Linked DNA regions of Homo sapiens. The protein of the gene in region 1 interacts with the protein of each later gene in a pairwise test. Each region holds a gene or a part of one and is shown in the gene's direction. Other genes may lie near its edges.

Region 1 (7,015 bases):
TGCTTTTTCCGGCCCACCCATGGCTGCCCATGGACCAATAGGCATGTACCTCCTCCCCTGTGAGACCCATAAAAAGCCCCTGACTCAGCCAGACCAGAAGAGACGATGGGACGACCAGCTGCGGGGAGGAGCTACCCTCTCTGCTGAGAGCTGGAGAGATGACAGGACAACCTGCCCACAGAGAGGAGCTACTCTAGCCAGGGAAGCAAGCAGGCATGCCAGCTCTTTCTTTTCCAGTATTCCTGGGCCCAGTGGGGTCTTCTCACTCAGTTACAATATTTGATCTAAGAACATTCACTTTCCAACTGATCAGAAAGTAAAGGTGACTGGCATGGTGTGGCTGTGAGAGATGCAGTGTGACCTCAGAGGTGAACATCAGTGCCGGGACCATTTGGAGCAGGATGTGGTAACCACCAAATGGAAACCACGGCCTTTTGGCTCGACCTAGAGCATGAATGTAGCAAAGCGAAGCCCTGTACACTTTATAAAAACCAGCAGAAAGACACTCCAGTCTGAGTGAGCAGCTGGAACAAAGCTCTGCTGAGCTGAACACTCAACAGGACTACCTGCCTGCAGAGAGAGGAGCTATCCTCTTTGCTGAGAGCTGAACACTCGTTGGGACACCCTGGCTGCGGAGAGGAGCTGCCCACTGTGGGTCTCCTCTGAGCTATCCTATGGCTCAGTAAAGCTCCTCTTTGTCTTGTTTACCCTCTGCTTGTCTGTGTGTACCTCATTCTTCCTGGATGCAGGACAAGAATTGGGACCTGCTGAGTGGCGGGGCTAAAAGAGCTGTAACATGAAGAGGACTGAACCATGCGTCTTGCTCGCCACATTGTGGGTGTCCAGAAGGAAAGAAGAACTGCGGCCCTTTGGGGAGTCCAGACCCAGGAGCTTCCCAAGCTGGGGTTCTGACACCCTCTTTAGGGCTCTGCGGTTCCTGGTATCTGCAAGCTTCCAGGCACCACCATGCTTCCCAGTGTCAGCTGTGGAAGCTGCTTATGGTACACCTGGTCTAGCTGCAGCCTTGCAGGAAACCAGCACCTGTGTTGGCACCTGAAGCTGCCTGCCCCACCGCAGCCCACATGCCTAGCTGTGCGCAGTGGCCAAACCCCACACTCATTCGCTCACACACCCCTCGCTGCCCCACTCGCCCTTGGCAGGTGTGGGATCCAGGCCGGTAGCATGAGCTGAGCACAGCCTGCAGGGCCGAGTGGGCCCAATGGGCCCGAGCAAAACAGGCAAAGGCATCACTGGCCACAGAGGTTTCCAGCTGGTAAAGCAACACCCCAAAGATCCCGTGACAGTTTATGGCTGCGGTGAGCTATTATTGCGTCACTGCACTTCAGCCTGGGCAACAGAGCAAGACTCTGTCTCTTAATCTCAGCGAGTACAACAGGAAGATGTACTGAGCCCCAGACCACCCCATCTCTCAAGGTGACTGCTTGGATGGGCTGGCGTGACTGGGAAGGCCTTTGCCACTTTGCTGTCTCCTGGATTCCATATCTACTGGATGGGTGCCATCTTGCCTCTAGCCAGGGAAGCAAGCAGGCACACCAACTCTTTCCTTTCCAGTATTCCTGGGCCCAGTGGGGTCTTCTCACTCAGTTACAATATTTGATCTAAGAACATTCACTTTCCAACTGATCAGAAAGTAAAGGTGACTGGCATGGTGTTGCTGTGAGAGGTGCAGCGTAACCTCAGAGGTGAACATCAGTGCTGGGACCATTTGGAGCAGCATGTGGTAACCACCAAATGGGAACCACGGCCTTCTGGCTCGACCTAGAGCATGAATGTAGCAAAGCGAAGCCCTGTACACTTTATAAAAACCAGTAGAAAGACACTCCAGTCTGAGTGAGCAGCTGGAACAAAGGTACCACCTGAATAGAGGGTGTGTGGCAAGGGCAGGCACGAGACAGGAAATCAGACTGGAAGAGTAGGTTGGGCCTGGTCATGCGTGCCAAGGCAGGCAGCATTCTCTAAGGAGCAGTGGTAAGCCATCAAGGCATTTGTTACTAGGGGTGTGACAATATGAGATTGTATTTTCAGAAGATGACTGGGGCTATGATGATGAATGCTTTGGGTGGGAGTGGAATTAAGCCAGAGAAACCAGCTAGTTCACTACTGCAACCATCCAGCCAGGATACTGGAGACTTTTATTCAACATTAGGCAAATACTTGCTGAGCACATGCTATGTGCTAGGTACTGTTCTAGGTCCCAGGGGTGCATCAGTGAACAGACAACTGTCTCTGCCCTTGTGGAGTTCACATTCTAGCAAGGGTGAAAGAATGATAAACAGTTTATGTAGGTGAAATACATATATATATATATATATATATTTTTTTTTTTTTTTTTTTTTTTTGAGATAAAGTCTTGCTCTGTCACCCAGGCTGGAGTGCAGTGGCACGATGATAGCTCATTGCAGCCTCTACCTCTTGGACTCAAGTGATCCTCTGGCTTCAGCCTCTAGCGTAGCTAGGAGTATAGGTGCATGCCACCATGTCCAGTTAATTTTTAATTTTTTTGTAGAGATGGGGTCTCCCTACGTTGCCAAGGCTGGTCTTGACCTCCCGGCCTCAGCAATCCTCCTGCCTCTGCCTCCCAAAGTGCTGGGATTACAGACATGAGCCACCACGTCTAGCCCTAAAATATATAGCATGTCAGATGGTGATGAATGCTAACGAGAAAAAATACGGAAAGGGATATAAAGATTTGCAGCAGGGGGACAGATTATAAATTTAGAAAGTATAGTCAGAGAAGGAAGTCTTATCAATGTGATATTTGAGTGAGGACCCAAAGGAGGTAGCTGGAATGTGGATGCCAGTGGAGGAGAGGAGACGGTGGGTTTGAGAGACATAGGAGACAGAATCAACAGGACTCAGAGCCAATCAGTAGGATGACGGGAGTGAAGGAGAAAGCTGAGTCAAAAAGATTTTGATTAGAGGTGACACAGGGCCACTGTAGACCCCTGCGCAGGCGGCACACCACGCAGCCTGCCGAAGTGTACGTGGTGGCCCTGGGTGTCTGGAGATGGTGATGCTGTTCAGCAGGACCCAAACCATAGCCGAGCCCTTCCTTTTCCTCCATTGGTGTCATCTGGTAGTTTGTCTTCCCGGGTAAGAAGGTTGTAAATTTCTTAAGATGATGATTGTGTCATCCCTGATAGCCCCAGATTAGCCAAGCCAAGTGCTGAGCACATTCCTGGTGCTCAGTAAATGTCACTGTTAAAGGGGGCTTCCCAGAGCCACACAACACCCAGAATAGCCCGTGGCCATGGGGCCTCAGCCTTACTCATTCTGGAGCTCCCAATGCCACTTCCATGGTGGCCTTTCCTGGTAGATGCTAGGAGGCTGGCCTCTCCAGGGTGGGAAGGCATAGGGTCCACTGTGCAGACACAGCCCCACAGGGGATTTGGCTTATGGGCTGGGTAGCAGCCTCTGGCCCTGTGGACGGTCAGGGCCCATGCTGGTGTGTGTGCGTGATGCTTTCTGCTTTCATTTTTCCGTCCTCATCTTTCTATTACTGGTTGTCCAGGGTCCTTTGGTCACCAACGAGCATTTCCCAGTGACACAGCGCGGCCTTTCCAGGGAGGGCATCTCTTGGGCAGGGACTGGGTGCTGCAGACATCAGCCCTTCCATCCCCTGTCTTCTTCTTTCTCTCAGAGCTCTGCGTGCCTCTTGCTGTGCCCTACCTGGACAAACCCCCAACTCCGCTCCACTTCTACCGGGACTGGGTCTGCCCCAACAGGCCGTGCATTATCCGCAACGCTCTGCAGCACTGGCCGGCCCTCCAGAAGTGGTCCCTCCCCTATTTCAGGTGGGAGCTGCCCTGGGGTCAGGTGTGAGCAGTGATTACTGGCATCTGGGCATGGGCTGAGTGTCCATTCCTCTAGAGCCACAGTGGGCTCCACAGAGGTGAGTGTGGCCGTGACCCCAGATGGTTACGCGGATGCCGTGAGAGGGGATCGCTTCATGATGCCAGCTGAGCGCCGCCTGCCCCTGAGCTTCGTGCTGGATGTGCTGGAGGGCCGGGCCCAGCACCCTGGAGTCCTCTATGTGCAGAAGCAGTGCTCCAACCTGCCCAGCGAGCTGCCCCAGCTGCTGCCTGATCTGGAATCCCATGTGCCCTGGGCCTCCGAAGCCCTGGGTGAGTGGAGGTGGGGTGGTCGTGGCCCTGGACAGGGAAGATATGGGAAGGAGGGGGGTCAGCCTGTTTGCCCTTAGGTGATGACCTGGCCTATGGGCTTGGTCCTGTCAGCATCTGGTGCAGCTCACTAAATACATTCCCAGGCCTTGACTTAATCATAGATGAATTGCCAAAGATTGTTGTCCTTCCTTCTGCCCCAGGGAGGGAGGACCCCTTCCCCAAGATTTCCCAACCTCTGCCTCTTCTCCCTGACCCCTTTCTTGGGATTCTTCTGTGCTCACCCAGGTTTTGGCTCTGGCATCACTGGATGGCAGCTTTCCCCAGCCTGGCCTTCCTAACTTGCTCTCTGCCTTCTGCCCTGCAGGAAAGATGCCCGATGCTGTGAACTTCTGGCTGGGGGAGGCGGCTGCAGTGACTTCTTGTAGGTGTAAGGGGAATACAAAGGTGGGGAAGGAGCAGGTTGGGGCAGAGGGAGGGAAGACGAGGCCAGGAGTGGAGGGATGGCCCTGGGTGGAGGTTGGGCTGTTCTCTAAGATTTCTTTTGGCTTCTAGGACTCGGGCACCACAGAGGGTTTCCCCTGACAGCTGAGGTCGGGGAATGGACCCATGGCATTGGGGGCGGGTGCATTGTTTCTTCTAGACCCAAAGAAACCTCCCTGAAGGCCCGCTGGGCCAGGGGGTAAGTGTAGGAGAACTTCCCCTCTTGTTGAAGAGGAGTCCAGGGCCTGGTGAGCATCAGGTCCCTGGTAGGCAGAGTTCCAGAATGCCCATCAGAGCCCCTGGCATCTCCAGCCCACTGGCTCTGTGCGTGCTTCTCTTTTGTCATAGGACGTCTTGGGGTGCAGGGCTCTCAGCATGATGGTTTGCCTCCTCCCGTGCCCCTGCCCTCCATACCCTGCCCCCGGGCCTTCTTTCTGTTGGCAGTGCACAAGGACCACTATGAGAACCTCTACTGCGTGGTCTCAGGAGAGAAGCATTTCCTGTTCCATCCGCCCAGCGACCGGCCCTTCATCCCCTATGGTAGGGGATGTGGCCTGCAGGGAGGGGCTGGGGAACAGCTGGCCCAAGGGGGAGGGAGGCAGCAAGAGCCTGGGAGGCCAGTTCCCAGGCCTGAGGTGTGGCTGTGGCATCCCCAGTGCACCAGGGCCCCTGATCCCCTTGCCCCTGCCCAGGGCTGGCTGGGGTGGAGGAGGGTCTGGCAAGTTCCAGGCTGTTTGCAATTCCCCCACACCCTTCTCCCTTGGGCTCCAGAGCTGTACACGCCGGCAACCTACCAGCTAACTGAAGAGGGCACCTTTAAGGTGGTGGATGAAGAGGCCATGGAGAAGGTGTCTGTCCTGTTCTTGGGCTCTAGGGAGGGAGAAGGGCAGAAGCCTGGCTCTGAAGAACAGGCACAAAAGATCTGGGGAGGTGGCACCTTGCTCTGAAAAGTCTCTAAGTCTGAGGCCTTTCACTGCTGAGCCAAGCAGGGCCTGTGGTGTTGACCTTTGGAAGGGACAGAGCCTGAAGTCCTGGGGGGTCTGGGGGGCTGCTCCCTGGCATCTGATGTGTTCCCAGGTGCCCTGGATCCCACTGGACCCCTTGGCGCCAGACCTAGCACGGTACCCTAGTTACAGTCAGGCCCAGGCCCTTCGCTGCACGGTGCGGGCCGGTGAGATGCTCTATCTGCCGGCTCTGTGGTTCCACCACGTCCAGCAGTCCCAGGGCTGCATCGCAGGTGAAGAGTTGCCCAGGCCGCCTGGGGAGAGGCCCTGTCAAGGTCCAGCAGGGCCTCTGGGGGGAGGCTTGGGAGGCTCTAGGTCAGAAGAGGGATCTTCATGCTCAGATCCCCGTTCTTCCCACAGTGAATTTCTGGTATGACATGGAATACGACCTCAAGTATAGTTACTTCCAGCTGCTCGACTCCCTCACCAAGGCTTCAGGCCTTGACTGATGGAGCACTGGTGAACACCACCAAGCACGCCTCGGGGGACGGAGCCAGCCCCTCCCTGGCCAGGTCAATTCTCGAGAGAGCCTGGAGTGTGCATGCTGGCTGCTGGCCCCGGGTCCAGCATGGCTTGAGATCAGCTTTGGAGGATCTTGGAATGTGGTCATAAGGACTCAAGGTGCCAGGCAGGTCTGGGTGAGGGTTCTCAGGAAGTTGCCACACAGGTGAGCAGAGTGGGGATCAGGTGCAGCGGCACCTCTCCCCAGCGCTGTGATGTTGGGCGAGTCACTGCGTCTCGGGCATTGGTGTCCTGTCAGTAAAGAGATAATAATGGCTGTACCTCGCGGGGCTGTTGTGGGCTTGGAGATGATGTCTATGAGGACCAGCATGGAGCTGGCACACAGGACATGTTGAATAAAAGGTAGCTGTGAGTCGTATGTCCTTTTTTTTTTTTTTTTAAGATGGGGTCTCGCTCTGTCACCCAGGCTGGAGTGCAGTGGTGTGATGTCAGCTCACTGCAAGCTCCGCCTCCCAGGTTCACACTATTCTGCCTCAGCCTCCCAAGTAGCTGGGACTACAGGTGCGTGCCACCATGCCCGGCTAATTTTTTTGTATTTTTAGTAGAGACGGGGTTTCACCGTGTTAGCCAGTATGGTCTTGATCTCCTGACCTCGTGATCCACCTGCCTCGGCCTCCCAAAAGTGCTGGGATTACAGGTGTGAGCTGCTGCGCCTGGCTTATGAGTCGTATGTTCTGATCCTCCCTCTTGAAGTTGCCTTCTGTGGTCTAAGGAGGGCCTGAAGGTTCAGGTAAAAACTTCAGGGTGACCTTCACTGGGGGTGAGGGCTGGATCCCAGCCTGGGCCCAAAGAGCCGTCAGCTGCCCAAGTCCCGCTGTCCATGAGAGTCACCGCAGCCCCTCCCTGGGACAAGCAAGCAGACCT
Region 2 (7,411 bases), on another chromosome or scaffold:
GACAGAGTGAGACTCCGTCTCAAAAAAAAAACAGCCAGAGGAGCAGTTTTTGGTCCATTGATGTGTGCAGACAGAAGCCGAACCCTTTCCTATGGTAACCAGACTTGTACCCGATATTATTAATACATTCCTGATTTCACACACACACAAAGTGTGTTTGGTGGTTGTTTTTTAAGTACCGTGGTGGGGAGGAAGGGGAATTTTTTTTTTTAATCAAAGCAAATAGTTTTGTTTTTGTTTTTGTTTTTTTGTTTCTTTGTTTGCCTATTTCCTTTAACCTGACAAGTATGCGTACCAATGGCTAGGCTGATTCGGATAGGTGGCCAGTTGTGTGAACACGGTGGCAAAATTAAATTGGACTAGAGTTTTCCACAAAAAACAAAAAAAAGACCCCTCCAATCCAAACATCCTTTGTGTAAAAATCAACTTGTATTATAACTAGACCTGTGAGTATTTCAAGTCATAATATGTACGGAAGATATTTGTCTACACCAAAGCAAAACATAACAAAACCAGAACCCCTGTTAGCCCAGGACTTGCACACATTTCTAGTCCGTTCAAAACAATGTTTATGTCAAAGCCTGTCATATCAATTTCCTGGAAAGTATAATGTAAACATTCTTACATTAATTTACCTATTTTAATCTAAACCAAGGAAATTCAAACGCAAGTTTTTTTCCTTTTCAATGAATGGACTTTTGTAATATTAAACTAGTAATCAAGACAGGAACAGCTGTGAGTATAAGCTATTGTGAGTCAATACAAATATAATACCAGGGCAAGAAAGAAACAATGAATAATAAGAAGCAATAAACAAAATACTACAGTTTAAATGAATTTTAAGAGAATATTTAAAAATTAGAGTTTTCATAATATTAGATAGAAAACTTAATCATCTATTATTTTCAGGCTTTGGGGGAAAACATGTCCTTCCAAAGTCTATGGTGCAATGCATTCAAATCTTTAAGAGAAATTAAAAATAACAGAATAGGCAAAATACCTTTTATCTGGTTTTTTTTTTACTTTGATTAGCTTCTTTTACTAACATGTTTTGTCTTAATATAATTTATGGCAACTTGAAATGCATACTCTAATTCTTCTCAAACTAAATATAGTAGAGGCTCTATGACATTTCTTTGGATACCAGAATCCCTTTAGAAATTAATTGATTTGCCTTTTACATAAAAAAGTTTTATTTATTTATGTTTTTGACGGGTCAGGTCTCTCTAGGAACATTCCAAAAGCACAGAGACAAGAACTATTCTAGCACTGCAATAAGACCAAAAATTAATTTCTATGCATTTTCAGAGGTAACTTTAAATCACCATTTTAAAGTTATTTTTAGAACATTTGAAAGGATAAGTTATCTTAGACTACAACATTTAATGAAATACTATAATTAAAATGGATAATCAATAAATTTTCATTCAATTTTGGAAGACAAAACAACACGAAAAGCAACTGAATCAACAGGAGTTTCGGGGACCTTTGGCAGACAGTTAATAAGATGAAAAATCTGTGAATGAAACTCGTGGGTGAAGAGTAGACAGATCTCTTCGTTCCCAGCTAGACCTCAGTGGCGACCATTTGAGAGTGATTTTAATCAGAAACCTTGACTGACAGGACCTTTTAGGAGGGGAGAACTTCGGGAGAAAGGAGGCTGGGAATGAACAAATCACTTTCTTCTGCTAGGACCCTTCGGCTTTGACTGGGAGGAGGACCCCAGCTAGAAGATAAAGGAGGAAAAAATCGCGAGGAACTGCTCGAAGTTGGCCTTTCTTCCCAACAGAGTTCGCTGGTCCGCTGCCACTGGCAGGCTTCTCTGACCGACTGGGATACTTTTTCTTTCTTCTTTCCTTTTCTTTTTTTTTTCTTTTTCTTTTCTTTCTCCTTCCTTGCTTCCTTCCTCTCTCTCTCTCTCTTTCTTTCTGTCTTTCTTTCCTTCCTTTTTTTTTTTTTTTTTTTTGAGACAGGGTCTCGTTCTGTCGCCCAGGCTCGGCGCTATCTCAGGTTACTGCAACCACTGCCTCCTGGATTCAAGCGATCCTCCCGCCTCAGCCTCCCAAGTAGCTGGGACTACAGGCACACGCCACCATGCCCGGCTTTTTTTTTTTTTTTTTTTTTCGAAGAGACAGGGTTTCGCCATGTTGCCCAGTCTGGTCTTGCACTCCTGGGCTCAAGCGATCCTCCCGTCTCGGCCTCCCAAAGTGCTGGGATTACAGGCATGAGCCACTGCGCCCAATCGCGGGATGGACTTTTCTAAGCAAGCCTCACTGTGCCTTTGGCGCGGGAAGTAAAAGGACAGGGAGCGTGGACCACCCTTAGCTTCCTGATGTGGTTTCGCTCTTCCTTTATCCGCCTTTTGCCAACCGAAGGCACTAATCCTGCAAGAGGCGTTGGCATGGGCGCCCTCCTGGCCGAGTCCCGGGCAGCACCCGTCCGTGCGCTCAGCACGGGCTTTGCGGTGCCAAGGCCTAGGGTGCGTCGCTTCCCGGGTCTGGAGGGTCATGGATTCGGTTCATCCTCCTCTATCAAGGGATCTGCCGTGAGGAGTTGGCTCCTCTTCTCTGGCTGGGGCTGGGAATGGAAGCGTGCAGCTGCAAAACAAGGACGCGGGCAATAAATTCCAGAAGCCCTTTCCCCTGGCCGCCAAGAATCCGGCCTTGGGGTAGTCAAAGAGTGACTTTAGTCACTTCAATCGGTTTTGTTTTGTTTTGTTTGTTTTTTGTTTTTTGTTTTTTTTATATATATATATACTGAGGGTCTCCATGTGCCGGAGTAGCCCTGGGCGAGTCGGCTGCTCAGATGATGAAGGTTTCGTCCCAGCCCCGGAGAACCCACATTGTCCTGCGCACCTCCGCACCACCGCGATTCTCTAGTCCTCCAAAGCCTCCCAAGACTGTAATGGAGTAAATTCAATTTCGTCGTGATATTTCCAAGACTATATCAGTGAAGTTTTTTTTTAAGAGTTGTGGGCCGGGCGCGGTGGCTCACGCCTTTAATCCCAGCACTTTGAGAGGCCGAGACAGGAGGATCACGAAGTCAAAAAATCGAGACCATCCTGGCCAACTTGGTAAAACCCTGTCTCTACTAACAATACAAAATTAGCTGGTCGCGATGGCGCGCCTGTAGTTCCAGCTACTCGGGAGGCTGAGGCAGGAGAATCGTTTGAACCTGGGAGGCGGAGGTTGCAGTGAGCCGAGATTGCGCCACTGCACTCCAGCCGGGAAGACAGAGTGAGACTCCGTCTCAAAAAAAAAAAAAAAAAAAAAGATTTGTGTTCGGGTGGGTGGCAACTGAGAGCTCGCCGAACCACAACCTCTTATTTAACAGATAAACAGATAAGGAAGCTGAGACCCAGAGGGAGCCAAAGCAGTGGAGAAAGCGAGTTCTTTGGGACTTTTCCCCTCTCCCCTTTCCCTCCTTCCCCAGGCTCCCACCTACCCCAGGCTCCCACCTACCCCGGGCTCATTTCCGCCCCCCACCTCCTCCAGGTTCACTTTGTAGGACTCCGTTCCTGCAGGGCCAGGTCCCTCCGAAGTCCCCGGGAGCGTGAAGGCGCCTGGGCTCGCGAGCATACGCGGAGGCTTGGCGCACCCTGGCACGTCCCAAACAGCAGAGCCAAGACTGCGAGACACTCACAATAGTTAGGGGAAGAGCCGGCAGTGGAGGCCCAAAATGGGCTGACCCCTAACTAGGAGGCGTGGGCGCGGTTATTCAGGCTAGGGCGCACGCGGACGGCAGAGGGGCCCACGCACGGTTCCCATGCTCTCCTGGAATTGAGTGTTGGCTCTCAGGGGACTTTGCTGGAAAGCCTCCATCTAAGCCCCTTTCCGAAATCAGGGAAGCTGGACGCGTTTAGAAAAAAGAAAAAAAATAGGCCGGTCGCGGTTGCTCACGCCTGTAATCCCAGCACTTTGGGAGGCCCAGGCGGGCAGATCGTCAGGAGTTCAAGACCAGCTTGGTCAGGGTTTCGCATGGCTAAAACCTGTCTCTACTAAAAATACAAAAATTAGCCAGGGTGGTGGCACGGACCTGTATTCCCAGCTACTCGGGAGGTTGAGGCAGGAGAATCGCTTGAACCTGGGAGGCAGAGGTTGCAGTTAGCTGAGATGGCGCCACTGCACTCTAGCCTGGGCAACAGAGTGAGACAAAAAAGAAGAAAAGAAAAGAAGAAAATAATAAGGTTTTAAACTTAAAGGATACATTCCTACTTACCCTCTCCACCCCCACCCTCTGGCTGCAGTTTCCATTTGCTTCCAGGGCTGAGTTTAACCTCCACCTCCGTTCCTGGGACTGTGGTGGAGGGGGCGACCGGCCCCTGGAGCGTGGGCGCTAGCGAGGTAGGCGAGACAGGGCGGAGCCCCCCGGAGGTATATCTTTATAAAGGAGGGGGCAGCTGCCAGAGGTCGATGCTGCCGTTCGGGTGGAGAACGTTCAGCACCGCGGCCAAGGACAAGGCCCCGCCCGGGTCCATAACCATTGTCCCCAGCTTCCAGATATCTAAACAGCCTCTCTCTCTTTCTCTCTCTCTGCACCTCCCCTTCACACACCCCACTTTCTTCTTTAAAGAGAAGAAAAAAAACCCACCTGGCGCACCTGTCCTTTTTTCTTCTATTTTTCAGAACCCTGGGCGGAAAGCGCGAGCGAGTTGGGCAGATGCCGGCGGCCGCGGTGCAGGAAGCGGTCGGCGTGTGCTCCTACGGGATGCAGCTCAGCTGGGACATCAACGATCCGCAGATGCCTCAGGTAAGTGAACCGGGTGTGTGCGGGCACGCGGGGCGCTGTCCATCCGAAGGAGGGAGAATGGCATTCGAGTTCTTGAAGAGTCTGCGGACGGACCATACACACACACACACACACACACACACACACACACACACACACACACACACACATACCCGCAAAATTTCTGGGTTTCTGAGGCCCTCTCAAGTGTAGAAAGAAAACTGGACTCTACAAAAGGCTGAGTTGGGTTTAGAAATGTGTCTTCTTGGCCGGGCGCTGTGGTTCATACCTGTAATCCCAGCACTTTGGGAGGCTGAGGCGGGTGGATCATCTGAGGTCGGGAGTTCAAGACCAGCCTGACCAACATGGAGAAACCCCGTCTCTACCAAAAATACAAAATCAGCCCAGCGTGGTGGCGCATGCCTAAAGTCGCAGCTACTCGGGAGGCTGAGGCAGGAGAATCGCTTGAACCCGAGAGGCAGAGGTTGCGGTGAGCCAAGATCACGCCATTGAACTCCAGCCTGGGCAACAAGAGCAAAACTCCATCTCAAAAAAAGAAGAAGAAGAAGAAGAAGAAATGTGTCTTCTCCCAGCAATTTCCTTGTGCTTGCCTGAAATCACAAGCAAAGCAGCAGGAAATGTTGGTCAGGCTCCACATTCCCAGTCTTGGGGAGAGCGGGACGCCTGTCCTTTCACTTCCCTTTAACCAAGGTAGAAATTAGGTGCCTCTCTCCTTATTCATTTACTTTAAATCCATGAGGAAGCTAAGGAGAAAATCTAAGCAGATGTAAATACCACTGCTTCTCATGCAGCAAAACTGAGGTACAACTGTAAAGTGAATCTAATGACCTAAATTTAAAACAAGTAGCCCGACTTGAGCAATTTGCTCAGACCTCCCTAACTGCTCAGAGGAAGGAGGCCCCATAGTCATGCCAACAAGGCCACCTGTACCCAAAACTTACTTCTTCTCTAATGACAAGCAAATCATCATTCTTTTAGGGTGAATTTGTTGTATTTTGCTTTATTTCAATAAAGCAAAAATGGTTTGGAGCCAAGTCCAAAGAATGACTGGGGTGGATGAAGTGGTGAATGAAGTGGGTGGTTTGAAGCCAGTTCCAGAGAATGACCAATTATCATTAGTCACACTGGTTAGGGCCAAAATTGAGTGATGTTGAAGTCCTGGCTGTAGGGGGTGGGGGGTGTAGAATGAGAGTTGCTTCCCTGCCATTTGCAGATGTGGGCTTCCAGCAATGTTGTGGCACAGGGATAAAAGAGATGGGTCATTTTGTCCGCAACTAAAATGTGTCTGATAGGTGTTCAGATGAATAACAATTCATTGCAACATTGTGTCGCCTCTCATAGAGGTCAGCACTTTTTTGGATCCATATATTTGTAGTAGGTTAGGTGTGTTTTACTCCTTTGTTTTTGTTTGTTTGTTGGGGTTTTTTGTTGTTGTTTGTTTGTTTTTTGAGGCGGGGTTTAGCTCTTGTTGCCTAGGCTGGGGTGCAATCACACGATCTCAGCTCACTGCAACCTCCATCCCCCAGGCTCCAGCGATTCTCTTGCCTCAGCTTCCCGAGTAGCTGGGACTACAAGCATGCGCCACCACGCCCAGCTAATTTTGTATTTTTAGTAGAGATTGGGTTTCTCCATGTTGGTCAGGCTGGTCTCGAACTCCTGACCTCAGCTGATCCACCCGCCTTAGCCTCGCAAAGTGCTGGGATTACAGGCGTGAGCCACCGTGCCTGGCCCACTCCTTTGTTTTAAAGTCTGCCTACTTTAGAGTCACATGGTACCATTTTCATGAAAGTGGACCACAGTACAGCAAGTGCATCTCATTCTGTTTCTGTCCATGTACATCTTCACAGGAAACAATCATATCTTGCATTTTAGAAAAGTCACATCCAAGTAATGTAATTATGGTTCATCTCTCAAGCATTTGCTAGACTTCCCATGTCAATATGAACTTTTTTTTAGGAGACTGGTTGTTAAGCAGGAAGCATGTGTGTAATATCTCAAACGGGCCAGGCACACTGGGACATGGAGAAGTGAAGAAACTTAGCATCGCCCTGCTCTGGGTAACCGAGTGAGCAAGTTAAACTACCTGTCTGACCTTGAGAGAGTCCTTGAATTTGCCTTAGTCTCAGGCTACTTACTCACTTGTCATCAAGTGGTAGAGTGAGATAACCATCTCAAACTCTCCTCCAGGTCTACGATCAGGTTCAGTGTCTATGTGTGTGTATGTACACACACACACAACATGCCAACACTTGAGAGCAAGTGAAACCCAATCCTTGACATCCTCTATTCTTGTACTGATTTTAAAAATACAATCTCTGTGGCTTCATTGCCAGGGTCACTACCTCAGTAGCTCGTGTGAGGCATGGGGGCCTAGTCTACATCCTTAAGGGAGAGCTAAAGAAATGCTGTTTTCTGGAAAATTGTCAATTTGTTACTAAGATCCTTAAGTTAAAATATTCACTTTTAAAACAAAGATATTAGCATTTAATATAAGCTTGGAGTTGATAGCACATCATTATATATTTCATTTGTGACTTACCTTACATTGATGTATCATGTCAATTGTAATATTTCAGAGAAAAGATAAATAATACCTATGGTAGTAATAATGATTTCAACAATATCTTTGTAATTTTGGAAACAAAATCACCCATTAACCTTA
Region 3 (6,363 bases), on another chromosome or scaffold:
CCAGGCTGGTGCATGTCAGAGAGCCCTCAGCCTCACCTTCCTTGTCCCCTCCTCCTCCTGAGGCCAGACTCATAACCTCTCTCAGAGAAAGGGAGGTGGCACCCTCTGGGAAGCTGATGGAAATGCGTCCCTCATGTGCCCTGGTGAGCATGCCTTCGCATGAGCACACATCAGAGGGACCACGGGTGCACTGCACGTGAAAGGCAGGCATGTGTGATCCCAAATACCTGTTGCAGCGGCGGGCACAGGGAGGCCTGCAGCCCAGGCAGCCCTCCTCTCCAAGTCCTGGTCTCTGCTCAGCACATGGTGATGGGGCTGTTTCATGGGCCCCAACCCTGCTCCAAGCAGGCCTGGTGTCTGGGGGCCAGGTTCAAGACCATCTCCCATGTGGGGCAAGAAGCACCAGAAGTTTCTGTTTCACCTCCCACCAGGTGATCGCCTATGGGCAAGGCAGCAGCGAAGGCCTGAGACAGAATGTGGACGTGTGGCTGTGGCAGCTGGCAAGTGGGGCCCAGGGACAGGGTTGCAGAACCCCCTGCCAGAGGGCATCAGCCCGCTCCTCGGCCCTGGGCTCCCACACGGGGCCCACTCTTGGGGCCTTGGGGCCCAGGCAGACTCAGACATTCACCCAGGTGATGAGGCCCAACAGTCTCCATTTGATTCTCCTGCTCCTCTTCTCCAGGAGGGCTCCTCGGTGGTGACAATGGGGGGACGGCGCCTGAGCCTGGCCCCTGATGACAGCCTCCTGGTGCTAGCTGGGACCTCGTGAGTACGCAGGGAGGGCTTTCCCTGGGATCCTCAGGGTCCAACTCTGTGTGATCCCTGCTCATCTGTGTGTCCACAGGTATGCCTGGGAGCGAACACAAGGCTCTGTGGCCCTGTCTGTGACCCAGGACCCTGCCTGCAAGAAGCCCCTGGGGTGACCCTCTTGCCATGGCCTGAAGCAGCCACAGGTGTGCCAAGCACCCTCGAGTGCCATCCCTGCCAAACAACTCTCCCAGCCCCCACTACCTCTCTGTGTACTGCCGCTGTGTCCCCCACAGACCTGCACATTGTTGTCACCCACCCTCCTGCCCTTCTCAGCCCAGATGCCATGCCCCTGGGCGGGCAGCAGCTCCCCATCTTCTCTGGCAGACTCAGCCCACTGCCTTGCCAGTCTTGCCAGGTGGTCTACCCCCGGCCCCGCTCCTGCCCATTCCTCTGTCCCTGCAGACTCAGTGCAGCACTTCCACACCAAGAAGGCCCTCAATAAAGGCTTCCTGAGGAACGCACACCTGGGGGTCTGCCGCAGGCAGTCATCACTGGCCTTCCCATGTGCCCCCCAGGACCATGTGGTGTGTCTGGGGCATCAGGGCACCAGGTGACCATGGACGTGTTGGAGGGTCTGTTATTGGGCATCCCTGTTTGTGGATGGGCATTCTTCACTGTGTGTGTGACTTGATCCACGCATGCTCCATGCCTGGTCCTGGGAGCACGGCTAATGTCATCTCTCCACTTCCTTCTCTGTTCTCATTTATTCTTTTTACTTTTTTTTTTTTTTTGAAACAGGATCTCACTGTCACCAAGGCTGGAGTGCAGTGGTGTGATCAGAGCTCACTGCAGCCTTGACCCTCCTGGCTCAAGTGATTCTCCCACCTCAGCCTTCTGAGTAGCTGGGACTACAGGCATGCACCACCACACCCTGTTAATTTTTTTTTTCTTTTTTGTAGAGATGGGGATTTCACCATGTTGCCCAGTCTGTCTTTTTACATAACTTTAAAACACTAGCATCTGTTGAGTTTTTTTCCAATAACAGAAGTCATCTGTGCTAACTATAGAAAACCCAGAAATACACAAAATCCCCCACCCAGAGCTAACCACTGTTAATACCTAAAGACTATGATCAGCCTGGAGAGGGGCATGAAGTTGTACCAGGAGCTCAGCAGTGTTGGTGGGGGTGTCTGGCCTTGTGTCCCCTTCCCTCCCCTGTCATGCACAGGTGCCCTGTTCAAAGACTCCAGAGGGACCCCTGAGCCTGCTATGGGTGTCTAGGGATGCTGGAGGCCTCAGAGGCACCAGTGGGAAGAGACAAGAATGTGGAACCTGCAGCGGGCGCAGCTCAGTTTCCTGGGACTTCCGTGAGAAGTCAATGAGGGCATGCACATGAGAGTGACAGATCTGGACAGAACAGGTCCCTGCGTGGACTCAAAGCTTCCTCTAGAAAAGAACACTTGACCCCTGTCTCCCTCATCCCCAGCCCAGTGGCTCACTGCCTTCCTACACTCCACTGGGAGCAGAGAAAGACCTGCCTTTGCTGAAAAGGCTACTGGCCCTAAGAGACATCGGGACCTTCAACCTCCTCGTCACCCCTAAGGGCTTTCCTCTCCTGCAAGCAAAGAAAAAACACCATCAGGCTCCTTCAAACACAAATGGTCCAGGATAGGCACAGGCAGAGGCTCCACGCGGCTCGTTCCTGGCCTGTAGCAATGCACTGCTCCGTGCAGGACCTGAGAAGAAGACATAGAATGTTCCAGGGAGGACCCAGGTCAGAATACCGATGGCCGTGAAGAGAAGAGTTTACTCTCATATGCAGGGCAAGCTTAATCCAGAGAGAAAGTCATGAAAATTAGATCTGTTTTTGTGAACACTCGCTCTGTCCCAAGGAATCCCCTAGAAGTTTGTTTTTTTTTTTTTTTTTTTTTTTGAGACGGAGTCTCACTCTGTTGCCCAGGCTGGAGTGCAGTGGCGCGATCTCAGCTCACTGCAAGCTCCGCCTCCCAGGTTCACGCCATTCTCCTGCCTCAGCCTCCCGAGTAGCTGGGACTACAGGCACCTGCCACCACGCCCGGCTACTTTTTTTGTATTTTTAGTAGAGACGGGGTTTCACCGTGTTAGCCAGGATGGTCTCGATCTCCTGACCTCGTGATCTGCCCGCCTCGGCCTCCCAAAGTGCTGGGATTACAGGCTTAAGCCACTGTGCCTGGCCTATAAGTTTTTACATAAATTATCTCATTTTATCCTCACAACTCTCCAAGAAGGTGGTAGTGCCTGATTTTACAGATCAGGCTCAGAGAGGTTTGGAAATAGGGCAGCTCTGTTTCCAACCCAGGCCTGTCTGCATATGGAGCTTAGGCTGGGCCTCACCACCCTGCTTCTCCCAGGGATGTTTGCCCTCAGCCTTGACCAAATGGGAGCCCAGGGCAGCCAAGAGAGGCCAGGGGCCACTGTGCCTGGGACACAGAGGCCAGGCCACACATGGCAGACTGCTGACCCCAGCCAGTTGGCAGTGATGGGGTCAGGCCCTGGAGCCTGGAACCAGCACCTCCCTTGGCCCTGCTGTCCCGGGTTATCAGGAGCCTGAAGCCCTCATCTCCACCCACAGGACCAGCCCATGGGCTCATGAGAATACCTCACCATGGGACAGCTGGACTTGTACCTTGTCTGGAGCTAGCCCCAGCCTCCCACTCCCTATTCCGCAGTGAATGCTAATGGGGGCAAGGAGTGGAGTGGACAAGGAGCCATGGGGAGACACAGACAGGGAAAAATCAGGATTGTTCTATTTGCGGGAGAAGCCCCCAGCTCCCCGTGCCATGGCAGTAGAAATTTGGCAGGGGCGTCCCCGTCCATGGGGCCTACTTCACCGTGTACCCGGACTTGGGACCATCACAGACTTCGGAACCATCAGGAACCTGGGAGCAACTGAAAGCTGAACTACAGTGGGCTTTCAGACACACAGCAGGCTGGCGGAGCACAAATAGGACTGGTTCCCTCCAGGCCACCAGCAGGGCGGTGGAGGTCTTCACTGACTCCCTGCCTACCTCTCAGGACAATGTCCTTTTGGCTCCACAGTCCCTGAAGCCAGAGCTGGTGGGGGCAGGGAGGCAGCCACCAGCCTCTATATGTAGTGGAGGAGGGGGTGTCCAGGGAGGGCTGCATGATCCTGAGAGCCCCCACCTCACCCGGCTGGACTATCCTCCCACTTCAGGGTTTCTCTGGGCTTCCATCTTGCCCCTGCTGAGCCCTGCTTCCTCCTCTACCAGCAGCACAACCCCCAGGCTGGGCTCAGAGACCTCATGTGGTGGGATCACTCAGTACCCCGAGGCGGAGGGAAGGAGGGAGGGCTGCAGGGTTCCCCTTGGCCTGCAAACAGGAACACAGGGTGTTTCTCAGTGGCTGCGAGAATGCTGATGAAAACCCCAGGATGTTGTGTCACCGTGGTGGCCAGCTGATAGTGCCAATCATCCCACTTTGCCCTGAGCACTCCTGCAGGGGTAGAAGACTCCAGAACCTTCTCTCAGGCCCATGGCCCAAGCAGCCCATGGAACTTCATAACCTGAGCTCTCCATCTCCCTCTCTCTCCTCCTCTGTTCTCCCTCCCTCCTTCTCTCCCTCACCCTCCTCTGCTCCCTCTGCCTTTACCACTGTGGGGGGGTCCTCTGGAGGGCCCTGCCACCCCACCTCTTCCTCGCTGGTGTCTGCCTTCCTGGCACCAATCCTGGCCCTGGAGTTTGTCCTGGGCCTGGTGGGGAACAGTTTGGCCCTCTTCATCTTCTGCATCCACACGCGGCCCTGGACCTCCAACACGGTGTTCCTGGTCAGCCTGGTGGCCGCTGACTTCCTCCTGATCAGCAACCTGCCCCTCCGCGTGGACTACTACCTCCTCCATGAGACCTGGCGCTTTGGGGCTGCTGCCTGCAAAGTCAACCTCTTCATGCTGTCCACCAACCGCACGGCCAGCGTTGTCTTCCTCACAGCCATCGCACTCAACCGCTACCTGAAGGTGGTGCAGCCCCACCACGTGCTGAGCCGTGCTTCCGTGGGGGCAGCTGCCCGGGTGGCCGGGGGACTCTGGGTGGGCATCCTGCTCCTCAACGGGCACCTGCTCCTGAGCACCTTCTCCGGCCCCTCCTGCCTCAGCTACAGGGTGGGCACGAAGCCCTCGGCCTCGCTCCGCTGGCACCAGGCACTGTACCTGCTGGAGTTCTTCCTGCCACTGGCGCTCATCCTCTTTGCTATTGTGAGCATTGGGCTCACCATCCGGAACCGTGGTCTGGGCGGGCAGGCAGGCCCGCAGAGGGCCATGCGTGTGCTGGCCATGGTGGTGGCCGTCTACACCATCTGCTTCTTGCCCAGCATCATCTTTGGCATGGCTTCCATGGTGGCTTTCTGGCTGTCCGCCTGCCGATCCCTGGACCTCTGCACACAGCTCTTCCATGGCTCCCTGGCCTTCACCTACCTCAACAGTGTCCTGGACCCCGTGCTCTACTGCTTCTCTAGCCCCAACTTCCTCCACCAGAGCCGGGCCTTGCTGGGCCTCACGCGGGGCCGGCAGGGCCCAGTGAGCGACGAGAGCTCCTACCAACCCTCCAGGCAGTGGCGCTACCGGGAGGCCTCTAGGAAGGCGGAGGCCATAGGGAAGCTGAAAGTGCAGGGCGAGGTCTCTCTGGAAAAGGAAGGCTCCTCCCAGGGCTGAGGGCCAGCTGCAGGGCTGCAGCGCTGTGGGGGTAAGGGCTGCCGCGCTCTGGCCTGGAGGGACAAGGCCAGCACACGGTGCCTCAACCAACTGGACAAGGGATGGCGGCAGACCAGGGGCCAGGCCAAAGCACTGGCAGGACTCAGGTGGGTGGCAGGGAGAGAAACCCACCTAGGCCTCTCAGTGTGTCCAGGATGGCATTCCCAGAATGCAGGGGAGAGCAGGATGCCGGGTGGAGGAGACAGGCAAGGTGCCGTTGGCACACCAGCTCAGACAGGGGCCTGCGCAGCTGCAGGGGACAGACGCCAATCACTGTCACAGCAGAGTCACCTTAGAAATTGGACAGCTGCATGTTCTGTGCTCTCCAGTTTGTCCCTTCCAATATTAATAAACTTCCCTTTTAAATATATTTATTTGCAAGACCAAATATCTGTCTTTAATTCTAACCTGGGACTGTCAGTAGGCGTCAAAGTGAGCGCCCCAAGGTGAAGGGAAACTTGGGAGAGAGTGGGGAAGCCATCCCACAGCCCCATCCCAGGGGGCACTGTCCTTCCCAGAACTTCTGGGAAGCCCCGGCATGTCCTGAAAGGCAGAACTGCTTTCTTGGGTGAGGCCTCAGGCAGGCCACCAGGGCTCCAGGCCCTCGGGTACAGAGTTTGATGCTGGGGACCTAACATCCCTCCCCAGTTCCCTCAATCCACTTAGCCCAGCCCTCTCATATCATGGACAGGACGCACCCCAGCTACTAAAGTCGTCAGGAATAGAAGTGAAAGCCCAGAAGTGTCACACACAGACCAGGAGGGTGGCATCAAGGGTCCATGTGGATGCTGGGGAGGGAGCGAGAGAAAAAGTATCAGGCAGAGGGAGGTGGGCCCGGGAAGGATGAGCGGGTGAGTACCAGACCCCGCCTC
Region 4 (7,025 bases), on another chromosome or scaffold:
ATCAGTTTGGGGAAATAATCTTTCCAGTAAAGGCAGGGAGAATGTGTTATAGGTGAGCTCACTGACCAAGATCTGGTACTTTGTCTCTCTTTTAAAGCCCCAGGTACCCAGTTTGTTAAGCCGACAGTTGGAGTTCCACAAGTGTTCTCCCAGATGACCCCTGTGAGGCCAGGCTCCACAATGCCTGTGAGGCCCACCACCAACACCTTCACCACCGTCATCCCGGCCACTCTTACCATTCGAAGCACCGTCCCACAGTCCCAGTCCCAGCAGACCAAGTCCACTCCCAGCACTTCTACCACTCCCACTGCCACACAGCCAACCTCACTGGGGCAACTAGCTGTTCAGTCTCCAGGCCAGTCAAACCAGACCACGAATCCCAAGCTAGGTAAGGCTTCGGAAGAGGAGATGGCAGAGCCAGGTTGGGATGGTGGGTGGAGAACAGATGATTATCACTTGGTCACCGTAGCTCCCTCCTTCCCCTCTCCACCTGCAGTGAGCATTGCCAGCTTTGTCACTGTGAAGCGACCTGGTGTTACAGGCGAAAATAGCAATGAAGTGGCCAAATTGGTGAATACCCTTAACACCATCCCTTCCCTGGGCCAGAGTCCTGGGCCAGTGGTGGTGTCCAACAACAGCTCTGCTCATGGCTCTCAAAGAACCAGCGGACCTGAGTCTTCAATGAAAGGTACAATAACCTGAAAGACTCTGAGCAGCCAGTCATTCAAAAACATTAATAAAGTGTTTGTTGTATCAGAGCTTTATACTCAGAAATAGAAAAATAAAATAAAATACAGCTGCTGTAGTTTGTTCTTACAGAAACTTTAGTAAGGAGAAAGCCACTTACAAAAAGTGTAACTGAATCAGCTCCAAGAAATTATGTGTGTAATTGTGCTTTGGAGATTAGTGAAATTGATTGATTAAAGATGGGTGAGATAATGAAAGATAACTTCATGGAAGAGATGGATTTCTGAGCAAGGTTTTAAAGTTAGGATTTGGTAGAGAGATCTTCAGGTTGAGAATGATGAGCATGAGGGTTTTCAGTGGTCTAGAGCAGGGGTCGGCAAATGTTTTCTGTAAAGGGCCTAGTAGTAAAGTTGTAGGCTTTGTGCACAATATATAGCCTCTGTTGCAGCTATTAACTGTGCTGTTGTGGTGGGGAAGCAGCCACAGATACATAAACGAATGAGCATGGCTGTGCTCCACTAAAAACTATTTATGGACTCTGAAATTTAAGTTTCATAAAATTTTCATGTGTCGAAAAGTTTTATTCTTTTATTTCAACCATTTAAAAATAAAAACCGCAAGGTATAGTGGCTCACACCTCATCCCAGCATTATGGGAGGCCAAGACGGGAGGATCACTTGAGCCTAGGAGTTTGAGACCAGCCTGGGCAACATGGTGAGATCCCATCTCTACAAAAAAAAAAAAAAAAAAGATTAGCCAGGCGTGGTGGTGTATGTCTGCAGTCCTCGCTACTCAGAAGTCTGAGGTGAGAGGATGGCTTGGGCTTGAACCCAGAAGGTTGAGCCTGCAGTGAGCCATGAGCATGCCACTGCAACAGAACGACACCCTGTCTCAAAAAAAGTAAAAACCTTTAAAACATGGTGTTGGGAAAACTAGATATCCATGTCCAAAAGAAGTTGGATCTTACCTTACAATAAATACAAAAATTAACTCAAAATGGATCAAAGACCTAAATGAACTAAAACTATAAGACTCTTAGAAAAATTATAGGACAAAAAGCTTCATGATACTGGATTTGACAGTGATTACTATTTCTTGGATATGACACCAAAAGCATACGCAAGAAAAGAAAAAATGAGTAAATTAAATTATATCAAAATTTAAAACTTTTGTGCAGGACGTTGTCAACACAGTGAAAAGGGAAGCCACAGAATGGGAGAAAATATTTGCAAATTATGTATCTAATAAGGGGTTAATATCCAGAATATATAAAGAATTTGTGCAGTTCAACAACAAAAAAACTCCCAAACAACCTTTTTAAAAAATAGACAAAGGACTCGCTGGTCGTGGTGGTTCATGCCTGTAATCCCAGCACTTTGAGAGGCCAAGGCAGGTGGATCACGAGGTCAGGAGTCCAAGACCAGCCTGACCAATAATGGTGAAACCCCGTCTATACTAAAAATACAAAAATTAGCCAGGCGTGGTGGTGTGTGCCTGTATTCCCAGCTGCTCGGGAGGCTGAGACACAAGAATTGCTTGAACCTGGAAGGCAGAGGTTGTGGTGAGTCGAGATTGTGCCACTGCACTCCAGTCTGGGCAACAGAGAAAGACCCCATCTCAAAAAAAAAAAAAAAAGTAGGAAAGTAGGCAAAGGACTGAATAGACCTTTCTCCAAAGAAAGTTATTGCCAATAAGCTCATGAAAAGGTGCTCAGTGTTATTAATCATTATGGAAATGCAAATCAAAACCACAATGAGGTACCGTCTCACTCCCATTAGGATGGCTACTATCAAAGAACCATAAAATAACAAATATTGTTGAGGATGTGGAGAAAGCAGAACCCTTACGCACTGTTGGTGGAAATGTAAAATTATGCAGCCACTTTGGAAACAGTATGGTGGTTCCTCAAAAAGTTAAAAATGATAGAATTGTTGTATGCTCCAGGAATTCCATTCTATACCCAAAAGAATTGAAAGCAGGGACTAGAACAGGTATTTGTACACCTATGTTCATTGCAACATTATTCACAATAGCTGAAAGGTGAAAGCAACACAGAGGTCCATCAACTGATAAAGGGATAAATAAAATGTGGTATTCACATACAATGGTATATTGTTCAGGCTTAAGAAAGGAAATTCTGCTACAACATGTGCTGCAACATGGTTGAACCTTGAGGACATTATGTTAAAGTGAAATAGGCTAGTCACAAAAGGACAAGTACCATATGATTCCACTTACTTGAGGTACCTAGAGTAGTCAAATTCATAGAGACAAAGTTGAATTGTGGTTGCCGGGGTGGAGGCGAGGGGAGAATGGTGAGGAGGTTTTTATTGGATATAGCTTCAGTTCTGCAAGATTAAAAAAAACAAAAACCTTAACAAAAAAATCACATACAAATTATTCTTAGCTTATGGGCCAAACAGAAACTGGTAGCTGGGCTGGATTTGATCTGTGTGCTGTGGTTTGCTGACCCCTGGCCTAGAGTTAGAACAGTAAAAGGAAGCCTCAAACATAGTGATCTTGAGCCCAGGGAGGTCAAGGCTGCAGTGAGCTGTGGTCGTGCCACTGCACTCCAGCCTGGGCAACAGACTGAGAGACCGTGTCTCAAAAAAAACAAAAACAAACAAAAACCATAGTGATCTCTCATGCTTGCTTACCCTTTTATATACTTCTCAGGGAGTGTTTGACTTTTTCCCAAAAGGTCAGTAATCTTTTTCCAGTGTCATTGTATTAATCTTATCAATTCTTCTCACTTCTTTCAGTGACCTCTTCCATCCCAGTATTTGACCTCCAGGATGGTGGACGGAAAATATGTCCACGATGTAATGCTCAATTTCGTGTTACTGAAGCTTTGAGAGGTCACATGTGTGTAAGTGATATCACCTGTGATCCAGCTTAAGTGGCTTCTGCCATTTACCTTCATTAATATTGGAAGCTTGTAAGCAGGGGCTCTAAAATGACTGAAGCTTTTTAAAGGGTTACTGTTTCTCTTGGTCTGTTTTTAGAAGAGCTGTGTACTTTGGAATGTGATGGGATACATTTAAAGACCCTCAAATAGATCAGAACATATGTGATCTTACTTTCTTAGTGTGGTAGATTTTGAAACCACACAGGAGAACAGGTTTATAGATAATAAGGACTCAAACCATATTGGCCTCAGTTCATTTTTGTTAATTGTGTCATTGGATGAATCGGGAGCTCTTACTTCCATTTTTTAGCTTTTCATTTTTTGGTATTAGTCCAGATAAAAAGGTTGGAACTTCTTCTTTGCCAGGGAGCTCAGAGCCAAGTTATACTAATGATTAAGGGACCTAAGACAGGCAGGAGGGAGAAATACAAAGTATAGCGCTTGGGTGGCATATGTGGATATACTCTAGAAAAGGAGTAAAACTTGGAAACGCTAAAAAAAACTGAAGGGTGAAAGCTGAATGAGAATACCTGAAACCAAACCGTTAACAAGGAATGGTAGTGAAGTTAAGGAGTTAGCACATTCTAGCCCCCAGGATAACCAGAATGATCAGATGTCTTTCTTTATAGTACTGTTGCCCAGAAATGGTTGAATACCAGAAGAAAGGAAAGTCCCTGGATTCAGAACCCAGTGTCCCATCAGCAGCAAAGCCCCCATCCCCTGAGAAAACAGCTCCTGTTGCTTCCACACCCTCTTCTACACCTATTCCTGCTCTGTCACCGCCTACCAAAGTACCAGAACCAAATGAGAACGTGGGCGATGCCGTCCAGACCAAACTCATTATGCTTGTAGATGACTTCTACTATGGACGGGATGGTGGCAAAGTAGCCCAGCTCACAAATTTCCCTAAGGTCGCCACATCTTTCCGATGCCCACATTGTACCAAAAGGCTAAAAAACAATATTCGGTAAGTGTTTAAGAGCCTTGGAAGTTACCTTGAACAAGAGAAGACTTACATTTTCTTATATATTTTAAGTCTTTCTCTTTGGAGAATGGACCTAACTACTATGCAGTCTTGCTGGGGTTATCATTAAATCAATAACTAGGACTATAGAAGGAGATATTGTGGTAATAAACAAAAGGTAACTGGATCGAGTAAGGGAAAGCAGTATGTCTCCTTTCCCAGAACTCTCTTAGTTTCAAGAACTCATTATCTTTCTGGGCTCAGAAAAGGATATCCCAAACAGGAAGTCTGGGGAATGGAGGGGAGCAGATAATGTTTGTTCTGTGATTTTACCATTATATTTCTAAAAGGCTACCAATTTTTTATGTTTTCTGTACTTTCTCTTTGTGCTTTATTACAGATTCATGAACCATATGAAACACCACGTAGAACTCGATCAGCAGAACGGTGAGGTAGATGGTCACACTATCTGCCAGCACTGTTACCGCCAGTTTTCCACTCCCTTCCAGCTTCAGTGCCACTTGGAAAATGTTCATAGTCCCTATGAATCTACTAGTAAGTTTGGAAACTCTTAAACTCAAGGGGAATATACCTTGCTGTTCACTCATTGAATGGCGCTGGGGGGAGCCCATTATATTTATTTACATGTGGGTAACAGTGTAGAGGAAGTACTTTTCATATTTGTAGCCAGTTCTTTACTTCATTCACCTTGTTTTTTTTTACAAGCCTGACTTTTATTTTGTTCAAGCATGGATTGAGTTCAGTGTTAGATCCTGAATTGTTAGGGGCGTTGATTCAGAACCACTGTAGAAAAACAAATGTAATTAATTTATTTCTTAGGTCTCTTTATAGAAGGAACAGTCATCTATTTGCTCTTCCACTTTAGTTAAACCCTGATAGGTTTTATGTAGGCTAAAAGATAATATTGTGAAGTACTTTATCATTAAGACATTGCTTTCAATGAAATATAAGATGAGCTGGAGTGTTTTCTACACTGTATATTTTATACATGTAGGCTGGACATAAGCTCAAAGAAATTAAGTAGGATAAAAGATAATATGGCCGGGCACGGTGGCTCACGCCTGTAATCCCAACACTTTGGGAGGCCGAAGCAGGCAGATCACCTGAAGTCAGGAATTCGAGACCAGCCCGGCCAACATGGCGAAGCCCCATCTCTACTAAAAATGCAAAAATTAGCTGGGTGTGGTGGCGGGCACCTGTAATCCCAGCTACTCGGGAGGCTGAGACAGGAGAATCGCTTGAACCCGGGAGGCGGAGGTTGCAGTGAGCTGAGATCATGCCATTGCACTCCAGTCTGGGCAACAAGAGCAAAACTCCATCTCCAAAAAAAAAAAGATAATATTATGAAGTACTTTATCATTAAGACAGTGCTTTCAGTGAAATATAAGGTAAGCTGGAATGTTTTTCTACACTGTACATTTTATAGATAGATGTAGGCTGAACATAAGCTCAAAGAAATTGAGTCATTTGCTTATGAGCGTACACCTCTAAATACACCTCTACTGGGGATACATAGTGAGGATTTAAGCCCAGTATTGAGAATACTTCTCATGTCCTTTACGGGATTTCCAGTTTTGTTGTAAAGACAAAAATTATGTAAATATAGGAAAATGTGAGAACAAGATAGTATATTATAAACATAGACATTTTAAGATATCATTGATAGGTGAAATACTTCAGAGAAGGGAAAAAATCCTTGTGGCTAGGTTTCCAAGAAAGTCGTGCTTAAATTTAAGAAAGGTTTAGATGGATGGAGAGTAGTAAGAAAAGCTTTTAGGTGATTGAAAACAGCATGATCAAAAGCATAGAAGACATATGCATATTATCTGGATGCATTTGCTACAAGTAAAAATCCTTAACTAAAAATGAATTAAACAATAAGGACTGGGTGTGGTGGCTCACACCTGTAATCCCAGCACTTTGGGAGGCTTAGGTGGGTGGATCAGTTGAGGCCAGGGGAGACCAGTCTGGCCAACATGGCAAAACCACATCTCTACTAAAAATACAAAAATTCGCTGGCTGTGGTGGTGTGCGCAGGTAATCCCAACTACTCAGGAAGCCAAGGCATGAGAATCACTTGATCCCAGGAGGTAGAGGTTGCAGTGAGCTGAGATCGCACCACTGCACTCCAGCCTGGATGACAGAGCGAGTCTCTGTCTCAAAACAAAAGAAAACAATAAGAATATCTGTTATATCATTTAACTGAGAGATACAGAAATGGATGCTTCAGCCTAGAATTTGACTGCCCTGCTGGTTTTCAACAATTCTCTTGTCTCTGGCTCATAGCAGGGTGGCTGTATAAGTGTCAGGCACTATGTCCAGATAAAAAATTGTTAGACAAAGAAGAGATCTTATCTTCCCATCTTTCTTTCTTGAATCTGTTTTCTTATGAGTGAGAATTGCTTTCCTTTTATATCTCTTTGACCATTTATTGGCAAGGGAAGT

Evidence for each region.
Region 2: the proteins of JMJD7 (region 1) and GCM2 interact in binary tests that used the Homo sapiens proteins (3 or more experiments, as listed by UniProt).
Region 3: the proteins of JMJD7 (region 1) and OXER1 interact in binary tests that used the Homo sapiens proteins (3 or more experiments, as listed by UniProt).
Region 4: the proteins of JMJD7 (region 1) and POGZ interact in binary tests that used the Homo sapiens proteins (3 or more experiments, as listed by UniProt).

What each region holds. Positions count from the first base shown.
Region 1 is NC_000015.10:41,831,079-41,838,093, forward strand, and holds the end of JMJD7 (bifunctional peptidase and (3S)-lysyl hydroxylase JMJD7), read left to right. Parts: intron 1-3,661; coding exon 3,662-3,815; intron 3,816-3,891; coding exon 3,892-4,145; intron 4,146-4,509; coding exon 4,510-4,566; intron 4,567-5,069; coding exon 5,070-5,165; intron 5,166-5,396; coding exon 5,397-5,473; intron 5,474-5,702; coding exon 5,703-5,862; intron 5,863-5,989; coding exon 5,990-6,078; 3' UTR 6,079-6,503; downstream 6,504-7,015. Other genes in the region: JMJD7-PLA2G4B protein, read left to right, coding at 3,662-3,815, 3,892-4,145, 4,510-4,566, 5,070-5,165, 5,397-5,473. UniProt on the Homo sapiens protein: Bifunctional enzyme that acts both as an endopeptidase and 2-oxoglutarate-dependent monooxygenase.
Region 2 is NC_000006.12:10,879,042-10,886,452, reverse strand, and holds the start of GCM2 (chorion-specific transcription factor GCMb), read left to right. Parts: upstream 1-4,411; 5' UTR 4,412-4,659; coding exon 4,660-4,749; intron 4,750-7,411. UniProt on the Homo sapiens protein: Transcription factor that binds specific sequences on gene promoters and activate their transcription. Through the regulation of gene transcription, may play a role in parathyroid gland development.
Region 3 is NC_000002.12:42,761,997-42,768,359, reverse strand, and holds OXER1 (oxoeicosanoid receptor 1), read left to right. Parts: upstream 1-4,224; 5' UTR 4,225-4,297; coding exon 4,298-5,452; 3' UTR 5,453-5,861; downstream 5,862-6,363. Other genes in the region: HAAO (3-hydroxyanthranilate 3,4-dioxygenase), read left to right, coding at 432-500, 683-765, 845-923. UniProt on the Homo sapiens protein: Receptor for eicosanoids and polyunsaturated fatty acids such as 5-oxo-6E,8Z,11Z,14Z-eicosatetraenoic acid (5-OXO-ETE), 5(S)-hydroperoxy-6E,8Z,11Z,14Z-eicosatetraenoic acid (5(S)-HPETE) and arachidonic acid.
Region 4 is NC_000001.11:151,421,486-151,428,510, reverse strand, and holds part of POGZ (pogo transposable element with ZNF domain), read left to right. Parts: intron 1-97; coding exon 98-388; intron 389-469; coding exon 470-688; intron 689-3,449; coding exon 3,450-3,556; intron 3,557-4,224; coding exon 4,225-4,562; intron 4,563-4,959; coding exon 4,960-5,114; intron 5,115-7,025. UniProt on the Homo sapiens protein: Plays a role in mitotic cell cycle progression and is involved in kinetochore assembly and mitotic sister chromatid cohesion.